3 linked regions of the Homo sapiens genome follow. The protein of the gene in region 3 purifies or fractionates together with the protein of the main gene of each other region. This does not show direct contact. Each region holds a gene or a part of one and is shown on either strand. Other genes may lie near its edges.

Evidence for each region.
Region 1: the proteins of CTPS2 (region 3) and MTMR2 fractionate together in Homo sapiens (co-fractionation; one large-scale study listed by BioGRID). This does not show direct contact.
Region 2: the proteins of CTPS2 (region 3) and LRSAM1 fractionate together in Homo sapiens (co-fractionation; one large-scale study listed by BioGRID). This does not show direct contact.

The regions. Positions count from the first base shown.
Region 1 is NC_000011.10:95,861,454-95,865,186, forward strand, and holds part of MTMR2 (phosphatidylinositol-3,5-bisphosphate 3-phosphatase MTMR2), read right to left. Parts: intron 914-3,733; coding exon 819-913; intron 650-818; coding exon 539-649; intron 1-538. UniProt on the Homo sapiens protein: Lipid phosphatase that specifically dephosphorylates the D-3 position of phosphatidylinositol 3-phosphate and phosphatidylinositol 3,5-bisphosphate, generating phosphatidylinositol and phosphatidylinositol 5-phosphate.
Region 2 is NC_000009.12:127,475,510-127,479,009, reverse strand, and holds part of LRSAM1 (E3 ubiquitin-protein ligase LRSAM1), read right to left. Parts: intron 77-3,500; coding exon 47-76; intron 1-46.
Region 3 is NC_000023.11:16,706,146-16,709,878, forward strand, and holds part of CTPS2 (CTP synthase 2), read right to left. Parts: intron 3,696-3,733; exon of another isoform or gene 3,666-3,695; coding exon of another isoform or gene 3,579-3,665; intron 2,374-3,578; exon of another isoform or gene 2,274-2,373; intron 1,353-2,273; exon of another isoform or gene 1,264-1,352; intron 1-1,263. UniProt on the Homo sapiens protein: Catalyzes the ATP-dependent amination of UTP to CTP with either L-glutamine or ammonia as the source of nitrogen. Constitutes the rate-limiting enzyme in the synthesis of cytosine nucleotides.

The sequences.
Region 1 (3,733 bases), on a different chromosome or scaffold from region 3:
TACTCTGTTGCCCAAGCTGGAGTGCAGTGGCACTATCTTGGCTCACTGCAACATCCGCCTCCCAGGTTCAAGCAATTCTCCTGCCTCAGCCTCCCCAATAGCTGAGATTACAGGTGCCCGCCACCACGCCTGGTTAATTTTTGTATTTTTAGTAGAGATGCGTTTTCATCATGTTGGCCAGACTGATCTCGAACTCTTGACCTGATGTGATCCACCTGCCTCAGTCTCTGAAAGTGTTGGGATTATAGGCGTGAGCCACCATGTCCGGCCAAGATGATCATTATTAAAAAATAAGTTATGAATTTGTGAATATATCAAAATATGTAGACTGAACTGGGCCCAAAAGAATTAAGTCTAATTCATGAATCACCTTTTCTATTACTGCTAAATTTTGTTTTCTTCTATCAATGTCATACTAAAATAACATTTCTAATTGGAAATCCATTTTATATTTTAGAAACCAATTTCAAAACAGAGGTTCTATTTAATACAAAGCTTTTCAAACCAAAGAAAATCACATACATATTATAACATTTACCTTACACACAGTTTCTAGTCCATAAGAATTTTCACCTCGACTAGAAGCACCACCAATTTTTTCTACTCTATTTATCACACCAAGGGAAGCATCTAAAACAAATGGGGGATCCTAAAGAAGGAAAGAAAAAATAATTAAAACTGAGCAATTAATACTGTCCAATTATAGAGCTGATCAAAATCTTAATCAGAAATGCTTTAATTAGAAATGATCAGAAATGAACAAAACTAGCTACAAACAACACACTCATGTACATACAAAAATCTAATCTGACTCTTACCCGTTCCATGCTTTTGAAATATAACCTATAATTCGTGACAGTCAGAGTTCCTCGTACAGCGCCAGTGAATGGACATATATAAGTTACATCTTTGGCTGAAAAAGCAAGAAGTCCACAGTTTACTATACATTATGTGCTATTAAAACCTGCTATCTCATCTTATAAAATTGTTATGATTCCTAGACTAATTTATGCTGAAAAATAACAGAACCAGTAATTTCCAGAGACCTCAGAATCCTACAACCCAAGCTTCCATCCTTGCACTAATCTGGGGAAGAAACACAGAATTAAATGGGATAGGCTGAAAAGGTGGAGGGACTTCTCATCCCATGAGACAGAATGGAAGTAAACAAAGGGGCTACTATCCTGGCTAGATAAAACAGGTGTGGGTAGCTGCAGCAGAGACGGGTGAAAGAATACTGGTAATGGTGGTATCAACAATAAGCATGTCAAGGCACAGTCGCCATCATCTCATTGCAGTTTCTATGTAACCTCACCAATTTCCTGTCCAGTTTGTCAACATTCTTCTAAAAATGCAATGTCCAAAACATATGTTATTCCACAAACTCCTGATCTGATTAATACTTATGGGGAAAATTTTACAGGTGAAATGACACACATTTAAAATATAATTTCTTAGAAAAATAACAGTATAAGAAGAGGATATTGTACTGCTGACCAACCAATGCCAGACTTTGTAAAGAAATAATCACAAGTAATGTTTTATCAAATAAACAATGGATCTACATGGCATTATGTTTTGTAAAATATGCATTAACTGATTATGCAGGATAACTTAGGAATCAGTATCTCAAAATATTATTTAAAATGCCACAGTTCATAATTTCCAATACATGGTTTTTATATCTTAAAATATTCATAAATTCCTAGTATGTCATTATTACACCAAATCAGCAGATAAAGGAGTATCTTCATCATTCCAAGGAAGTAAGGGACAATTCTGTGGAGCAACAACTTTCTAAGACCCTTTCAACGGGCTTCTGGGAAAACTTGGGGCCATGAAATATATTTAATAAGGTATTACAACCTCCTGACTTTGCTTCTCATTCAACACTTCGAAGGACTGGCTGCTTTGTATGGAATTTGAAATGAGACTGATCTTTTCACAATCATTTCTAACCTTCAAAATAGTTCCCTTAGGAACATTTTAAGTATAAACTACTTTTTTAAATCGTTTCGAATGCATATTTCATTTAGAGGGAAGCTTTTAAAATTAAATGAACCCATCATTATACAAAAATACACAAACTTGCTTTGCACAAATAATATTTTTCCCTTATGAATTTTTACCTCAACTAGAAAAGCTTTATTCAAGGTTACTAAAACATTTCTGGATTCCTTCCACAGTCAATTTTCTTACTCATGTAAGAAAACTCAGCCTTATTATCCTATATCCCACCACAGGAATGTCATTCTCAGGCCAGTGCTTTTCTGTTACATCTTCCCCTTTATTCTAAAATCATGAGATAATATACATATAAAGATGCTTCTAAAGTTCTAAGTACAATACAAAAATTCAAGGGTTTATACCTATGTTACTATTATCATCATTAGTCTTTGCTTTGTTCTGTACCCTCTATCATTCCTCAAGAGATCATGACAATGGAGAAAAGAAGATAAATACAAGAAATTCTTAGACACTGACTGGATGTTAAGAGTCCAGAAAAGAAAAAAAGAGCAGTCTAGTACGACAACCAGATTTCTGACTTGAGTAAATGGACAGCTGGTATTGATGTCAACTGAGAGAGAGAATGCAAGAAAAAGAGTAAGTTTGGAGTTAAACGTGATGATTTCCATTTTGGAGATGTTGGGTATAAGGTTCCTATGGGATATTCAAGGATGTGTGTTTAAGATAGAGGCATTTGTTTACTTACATTAGGACAGGGGTTCACACTGGAGATAACAAATTTTGGAGTCATCAGCCAATATATGGCAAGTGATGTTACAAATTTAGATATGGTCAACCGAAAAGAGTATACAGGAGGGAAAAGGGAAATGGGTCAAGGATGAAGTCCTAGGGCGTGTTGCTATTAAAGGAAGAAGAGCCAACAAATGAGACTGAGTGGTAACTTGAAGTTCTTTAATAAAGCCATATTTCATAATGGGAGCTGCAATTACGGCATTAAGTTCAGAATAAGAAAAAGAAATTGTCACAATGCTAGATATAACCTTATTAGCTAGGTTATCTTCCTATGCCTTAGTTTCCTTCCTCACCTATAAAATGGGGTTGATGTTATTCTCAAGAATATACTCTCTGAGAATGACTGAGATAGTAAGCACTCAATAATAATAACTACTATCATTATATAATAGCCAATTCTGAAAAAATGTAAGTAGGTAGTTCAGATCAAGAGCTTGGTGTATATATAAGGCTAACTGGGGAAAAGAAAAAGACTGAGAGGTTATTCAATCAAGAGCCAAGAGCAAGAAAAGACAAATAGCATGCTAAGGACTAGGAAGCTAAATTTAGTAAATAATAATCCATTTAGAATACAGGTCCTGCCTTTGGCTTGTTTTTACACATAGAAATGACACCTAGCCAAGTAAAATTCAGCATTTTTAAAATCCTTTTTAAAAATTATGATTGGTAACAAAATGAAACATGGTAGTTATATTAACTAAGAAATCATTTACTTCATTCTTCTAACATATTACTTTATTTCTCAGAGTTTATGAGTAGATATCTGTAGATTATCACACAGATGAAACAAAACAAAAGCATGAGGAAAAAAAACACAGCTTGTAAGCTCATTTTCAGTTTCCAGTCCATATTATAAGTATTAGGCTGGGCAGAGAAGGGCATCTACATACAAACAGATGCAATGGAGATGATGTATTTCATCCAAAAATTAACCTGACTTTATTCAGAGAAGAAAGACATGAAGGAAGCAAAC
Region 2 (3,500 bases), on a different chromosome or scaffold from region 3:
TCTTTAATGAGAAAAGAGTGACAGAAGGGTAAAGGCATTTTCTTACCTTCCTCTTCTCATAGTCTGAGAACCTGTTCTGGGAGGAAAAAAAGACAGTGGTCAAGAGAGGGTGGCAGCAGTGGTTCTCCCTGGCATGGGCACCAGGAACCCCCGGGTGGCCTGATGTTATACAAACTCTGGCCCACCCCAGACCACTGCCTCAGAATGGTGGGGTCGGGGGATGAGGGGATCCGTATTGATCAAGGGCACCAGGTGGTTCCAGTGGACACCTGATGAGAACCCCTGGGCTGTCACTGTGTGCATGGCACTGTAGGAGGGGCTCTTCAAGACAGTTCTGGGATGCAGCCCTGAGCAGGGATGGTGGTCTGAAGAGCAGAGCAGGAAATGGGATATCTGATGCCCATGGATGTCTGCGTAACACACCTACAGCACCCGGTTCCAGTCCACCAAAATACTCACAGTGCACAAAGGTGTGGGTACAACTTCCTGCAGAATTATTCAAAAGAGCAAAAACACTGGAAATAACTCATACATCTATCAACATCTGTCCGTAAGTCATGGTGCATCCATACAGTGGACTATTACACAACCGCCAATGGGGCGAATGTGTGAGATCCCTCACCTGTGTGTAGCATGATTCTACTTTTGCAAAAACATCATCAAGAAAACTCAACTCTGAGCATATGTGTGAAGGTATTGAGTCAAAGGTCAAGAAGGACAGTCATTAATCAGTTAATGATGACTACCTCCAGGCAACGGGAGTGCAGGGTGGAAGGGTTGACATTCACTTGGTTTGTAATTGTCTGTATTGTTTAAATTTATAACAAGGAGCAGGTATTAAACATCAATAATGTAATGTAATTATTGGTGTTTAATTAATTAATTTATTATTGATGTAATTAAACAGCAATACACATATACACAAGAGTTAGGTTCTTCTTTTTTTTTTTTTTTTTTGAGACGGAGTTTTGCTCTTGTTGCCCAGGCTGGAGTGCAATAATGGCACAATCTTGGCTCACTGCAACCTCCACCTCCTGGGTTCAAGCAATTCTCCTGCCTCAGCCTCCTGAGTAGCTGGGATTACAGGCACCCACCACCACACCCGGCTGATTTTCTGTATTTTTAATAGAGACAGGGTTTCACCATATTGGCCAAGCTGGTCTCGAACTCCTGACCTCAGGTGATCCATTTGCCTCGGCCTCCCAAAGTGCTGGGATTATAGGCATGAGCCACTGCGCCCGGCCCACACAAGTTTTTTCTTTGTGATGGAGTCTCACTCTTGCCCACGCTGGAGTGCAGTGGCACAATCTCAGCTCACTGCAGCCGCGACCTCCTGGGCTCTAGTGATCCTCCCACCTCAGCCTCCTAAGTTGCTGAGACTGCAGGCACGCACCACCATGCCTGGCTAATTTTTTGTATTTTTGGTAGAGACAAGGTCTTGCTATGTTACCCAGGATGGTCTCAAACTCCTGAGCTCAAGCATCCACCCGACTCGGCCTCCCAAAGTGCTGGGATTATAGGCGTGAGCCACTGCGCCTGGCACACAGGTATTTTTTGAATGGTCCTTCTATTTAGTTATCCTGTTTTGAGAACAGGATCAGTCTCTGAATTATAAAAGCAGCAACCTATAAATAGGATTTTGCCTATACTAATGGTAGGAATATAATTTTAAAATTAATCTTCAATTATACAGATAACATCTCAATATATTCTCCTTGTAAAAGTTTGAAACATGGTATAAAAAACTAAAGCATCTACTGACCACTCCAGCCTAACCCTGGTTCCCCTCCCACCCCACACCTCCTGTCAGGTGTAACTGTCATTATCAGGCCCAAGGCATGCATCTGTACATATATAATTTGTGCCTTTGGGAAAGAAATATATTTGTATTTGTGTGCATATATAAACATTTTTTTAATCAAGTATAATCTATTTACTCTAATTCACCCAATGTTAGTGAACAATTCTATGAATCTTTATATATGCATAGAGTTCTGTAACCTCTAAACACAATTAAGATAGAAAACAATTCTGGCTGGGCGCGGTGGCTCATGCCTGTAATCCCAGCACTTTGGGAGGCTGAGACAAGTGGATCACTTGAGTTCAGGAGTTCGAGACCAGACTGGCCAGCATGGTGAAACCCCGTCTCTACTAACAAAATGCAAAACTTAGCCAGGCGTGGTGGCAGGTGCCTGTAATCCCAGCTACTCGGGAGGCTAAGGCAGGAGAATTGCTTGAACCTGAGAGGCAGAGGTTGCAGTGAGCTGAGATCATGCCACTGCACTCCAGCCTAGTGTGACAGAGTGAGACTCTGTCTCAAAAAGAAAAAAGAAAACAATTCCATCACCCTCGAAAATTCGCTCATGCCACTTCATCATCAAATCCTCTTCCCACTCCAGCCACTGGCAACTACCTGTCTGTTTCCTTTTTTTGTTTTGAGTTTTCTTTTTCTTTCTTTTTTGAGATAGGGTCTAGTTCTGTTACTCAGGATGGGGTGCAGTGGTGTAATCTTAGCTCACTGCAAACTCCAACCTCCTGGGCTTAAGCCATCCTCCCACCTTAGCCTCCCTCGTAGCTGGGACCACAGGCACGTGCCACTATGCCTGGCTAATTTTTTTGTATTTTTTGTAGAGACAGGGTCTCGCCACATTGCCCAGGCTGGTGTTGATTGAGTTTTCTTTTTAAACATAAGAATGGAAATAGACTAGCCCATCCTGTTCTGCAATCTGCCCTTTTCACTAATCCATGTGTCCCAGCGAGCCGAGGCTCAAATGCTCCATCTCATGGTGTGCACATGACCCAGGGGCAGTGCCTTCTCACTGACAAACATTTGGGGGGCATCCAATACTACAAATAAGGCTGCAATAAACACTCCTGCAAATGTCTCCTCATGCAAGCATTTATCTTGGGTATACATTGAGAAGCGGAACTTCTGGATCACGGGCTGTGCCCATGAAAATTTTTGACATCTGGCGGGTGTGGTGGCTCACACCTGTAATCCCAGCACTTTGGGAGGCCGAGGTGGGCAGATCACTTGAGGTCAGGAGTTCGTGACCAGCCTGGCCAACATGGTGAAACCCCGTCTCTACTAAAAATACAAAATTAGCCGGGCATGGTGGCGCATCCCTGTAATCCCAGCTACTCGGGAGGCTGAGGCAGGAGAATCACTTGAACCCGGGAGATGGAGGTTGCAGTGAGCCAAGATTGCACCACTGCACTCCAGCCTGGGCAACAGAGTGAGACTCCATCTCAAAAAAAAATAAAAAAATAATAAAATCTTTTTTGACACCTACTGTCAAATTATCCTCCAAAGTTGTGATACCAATTTTCACTCCCAAGAGCAGTTTATGAGGACACCTGTTTTCCCATACTCTGGCCAACAGAAATTGTCATGTCAAAATGTGTGCCAATCTTGAGGAAGGAAATGGTATTTCAATGTTGTTTTAACTTAACATGCCTCTCCTCTGATTACCAGCAAAGTTGGCATTTTTAAATGTTTG
Region 3 (3,733 bases):
AGGCACAGTGGCTCACGCCTATAATCCCAGCACTTTGGGCAGCCAATGCAGGCAGATCACTTAAGATCAGGAGTTCGAGACCAGCCTGGCCAACATGGTGAAACCCTGTCTCTACTAAAAATAAAAAATTAGCCAGGTGTGGTGGCAGGCACCTGTAATCCCAGCTACTTGCGGGGCTGAAGCACGAGAATCACTTGAACCTGGGAGGCAGAGGTTGCAGTGAGCCCAGATCGTGCCACTGCACTCCGGTCTGGGCAACAGAGTGAGACTCCGACTCGAAAGGTAAGAAAAATTTTGGCCAGGTGCAATGGCTCATGCCTGTAATCCCAGCACTTTGGAAGGCTGAGGCAGGCGGAACACCTGAGGTCAGGAGTTTGAGACCAGCCTGGCCAACATGATGAAACCCTGTCTCTACTAAAAAATACAAAAGTTAGGCTGGGCATAGTGGCTCACACCTGTAATCCCAGCACTTTGGGAGGCCAAGGCGGGTGGATCACCTGAGGTCAGCAGTTTAAGACCAGCCTGGCGAACATGGTGAAATCCCATCTCTACTAAAAATACAAAAATTAGCCGGGCGTGGTTGTGGGCACTTGTAATCCCAGGTACTCAGGAGGCTCAGGCAGGATAATTGCTTGAACCTGGGTGGAGGAGGTTGCAGTGAGCTGAGATCGCACCATTGCACTCCAGTCTGGGTGACAAGAGCGAAACTCTGTCTCAAAAAAAAAACAAACAAACAAACAAACAAAAATTAGCCGAGCATGGTAGTATGCGCCTGTAATCCCAGCTACTCGGGAGGCTGAGGCAGGAGAATCACTTGAACCTGGGAGGCGGAGGTTGCAGTGAGCTGAGATCACGCCACTGCACTCCAGCCTGGGCAACAGAGTGAGACTCTGTCTCAAAAAAAAAAAAAGAAAAGAAAATGTTTTAAAAAAGAAAGTCTCCTTTCTAAATTTATAGATCTTGTGATTTTTAAGTTGACAGTCATAAGGAAAATTTATTTGACTTTTCTGCTGCTTTCTGATTCAAACCCTTTTGTTTTATAGGAAGCCCAATAACTTGATTTTCTTTACTTTGAGTACTATTGTTTTTCCCTTGAGTGTGTACAGGGGCCTTCTGCTCTTGTAATTTCACCATGTATGTGAAAGTAGACCATAAACAGTATTATTTGTGTACTCATGGCAGGCAAATGGGCAACTGAGTAAGACCACAATATAAAATTACAGTTACAGAAAAAGAAAAATAATGCCAGGCATGGTGGCTCACATCTGTAATCCCAACACTTTGGAAGGCTGAGGTGGGAGGATCTCTTGAGGTCAGAAGTTCGACACCAACCTGGTCAACATAGTGAGACTCCCTCTCTACAAAAGAAAAATAAAACATTAGCCAGGTGTGGTGGCACACACCTGTAGTCCCAGCTACTGGGGAGGCTGAGGCAGGAGGATTGCTTGAGCCCAGGAGGTCAAGGCTGCAGTTAGCCAAGTGATTGTGCCACTGCACTCCAGCCTGGGTGACAAAGCAAGATCCTGTCTCAAAAATAAAAAGAGAGACCAGGTGCGGTGGCTCATGCCTGTAATCTCAGCACTTTGGGAGGCCAAGGCGGGCGGATCACCTGAGGTCAGGAGTTCAAGACCATCCTGGTCAGCGTGGCGAAACAATGTCTCTACTAAAAATATAAAAAGTAGCCGGGCGTGGTGGCGTGTGCCTGTGGTCCCAGCTACATGAGCTGCATGGGAGGCTGAGGCAGGAGAATCACTTGAAGCCGGGAGGCGGAGGTTGCAGTGAGCTGAGATCACACCACTGCATTCCAGCCTGGACAATAGGGTGAGACTCGGTACCAAAAAAGAAAAAATAAAAAGAGAGAGAGAGAGAGACAGTAACTAACAAAAGGTAATAACTATAAATTTCACTTTCATTTGTAATTTCACAATTTTTTTACATACTTGGAAATTCAGCACAAATGCATTCGGGTAGGAACAATTTCAGTTACCCACTTCTTATTTGTCCTCCTCAAAGGAATGCCCATTCTGATTTTGTGGTTTCCTCTGCTTACCTTTCAAAACAAACTATCTTAACTAAAGTTATCACACGTCAGAGCTGTGAATTCCATTTGAACTAGCTGACCATGGTCAGGCTGAGTAAACTGAAGCTATTCAAAATATACATGTTCCATCCCAGATGGCCTCCCTAAGTCCCTGGGCCTACCTTTCTCTACACAACACAGTTGATCACATTCAATGCCATCGCACATCTTCACTAGTCACCAGGGCACCCACCTATCTGACCTATGTTTATAGCTTAAAACATTGTCAATCCAAACCCAGAGCCAAGATCACACCATTGCACTCCAGTCTGGACAACAGAGTGAGACTCCGTCTGAAATAAATAAATAAATAAATTATATATATACATATATTACATATATAATGTTTATTTGAACATCTATTACATGCTTGACATATTTCCAAGTCCTAGGAATATGGAGATAAACAAAAAGACAAGGTCTATGTTCCACTGGACTTCACCTTTCCTGCAGGATTAAGGGGCAAATAAACTGTGCTTTAATTATACCTTATTCTGGCACTGTTATACTGTTCAAATGACTCTCTTTGTAAAAGTTACCGAAATGGAAAAATGCCGTAGAGGTATGGTGAAGAAAACTGGCATACATTCGTACAAGTCACATTATGCCTAATAAATTTTTGTATAAGAAAATGCTTCTTTGGGAGGCTGAGGCAGGCGGATCACCTGAGGTCAGGAGTTCGAGACCAGCCTGGCCAACATGGTGAAACCCTGTCTCTACTAAAAATACAAAAATTAGCCAGGCGTGGTGGCAGGCGCCTGTAATCCCAGCTACTTGGGAGGCTGAGGCAGGAGAATCGCTTGAACCCGGGAGGCAGAGGTTGTAGTGAACCCAGATAGCACCATTGCACTCCAGCCTGGGGGACAAGAGCGAGACTTCGTCTCAAAAAAAAAAGTTAAAAAAAAAGAAAATGCTTATGTGGCCGGGCACGGTGGCTCACGCCTGTAATCCCAGCACTTTGGGAGGCCAAGACGGGCGGATTGCCTGAGCTCAGGAGTTCGAGACCAGCCTGGGCAACATGGGGAAACCCCATCTCTACTAAAATACAAAAAATCAGCCAGGTGTGGTGGCGTGCACCTGTAATCCCGGCTACTCAGGAGGCTGAGGCACGAGAATTGCTTGAACCTGGGAGGTGGAGGTTGCAGTGAGCCAAGATTGTGCCAGTGCCCTCCAACCTGGGCAACAAAGTAAAACCGTGTCTCAAAAAAAAAAAAAAAGGAAGAAAGAAAATGCTTATGTTACCTGAAAAAGAGAGCAGACTATAAAATTGAATATATTATTGACTATGTTTTTTTAAACTAAGATCTAAATTTTATTTGTCACCACTAAGATTTCCATCTTATGGCCGGGTGCAATGGCTCACGCCTGTAATCCCAACACTTTGGGAGGCCAAGGCGGGCGGATCACAAGGTCAAGAAATCAAGACCATCCTGGCCAACATGGTTAAACCTTGTCTCTACTAAAAATACAAAAATTAGCCAGGCGTGGTGGCACCCACCTGTAGTCTCAGGTACTCGGGAGGCTGAGGCAGGAGAATCACTTGAACCCAGGAGGTGAAGGTTGCAATGAGCCAAGATCGTGCCATTGCACTCTACCCTGGTGACAGAGTGAGACTCTGTCTCCAAAAAAAAAAAAAAAAAAAAAAAAACAGAT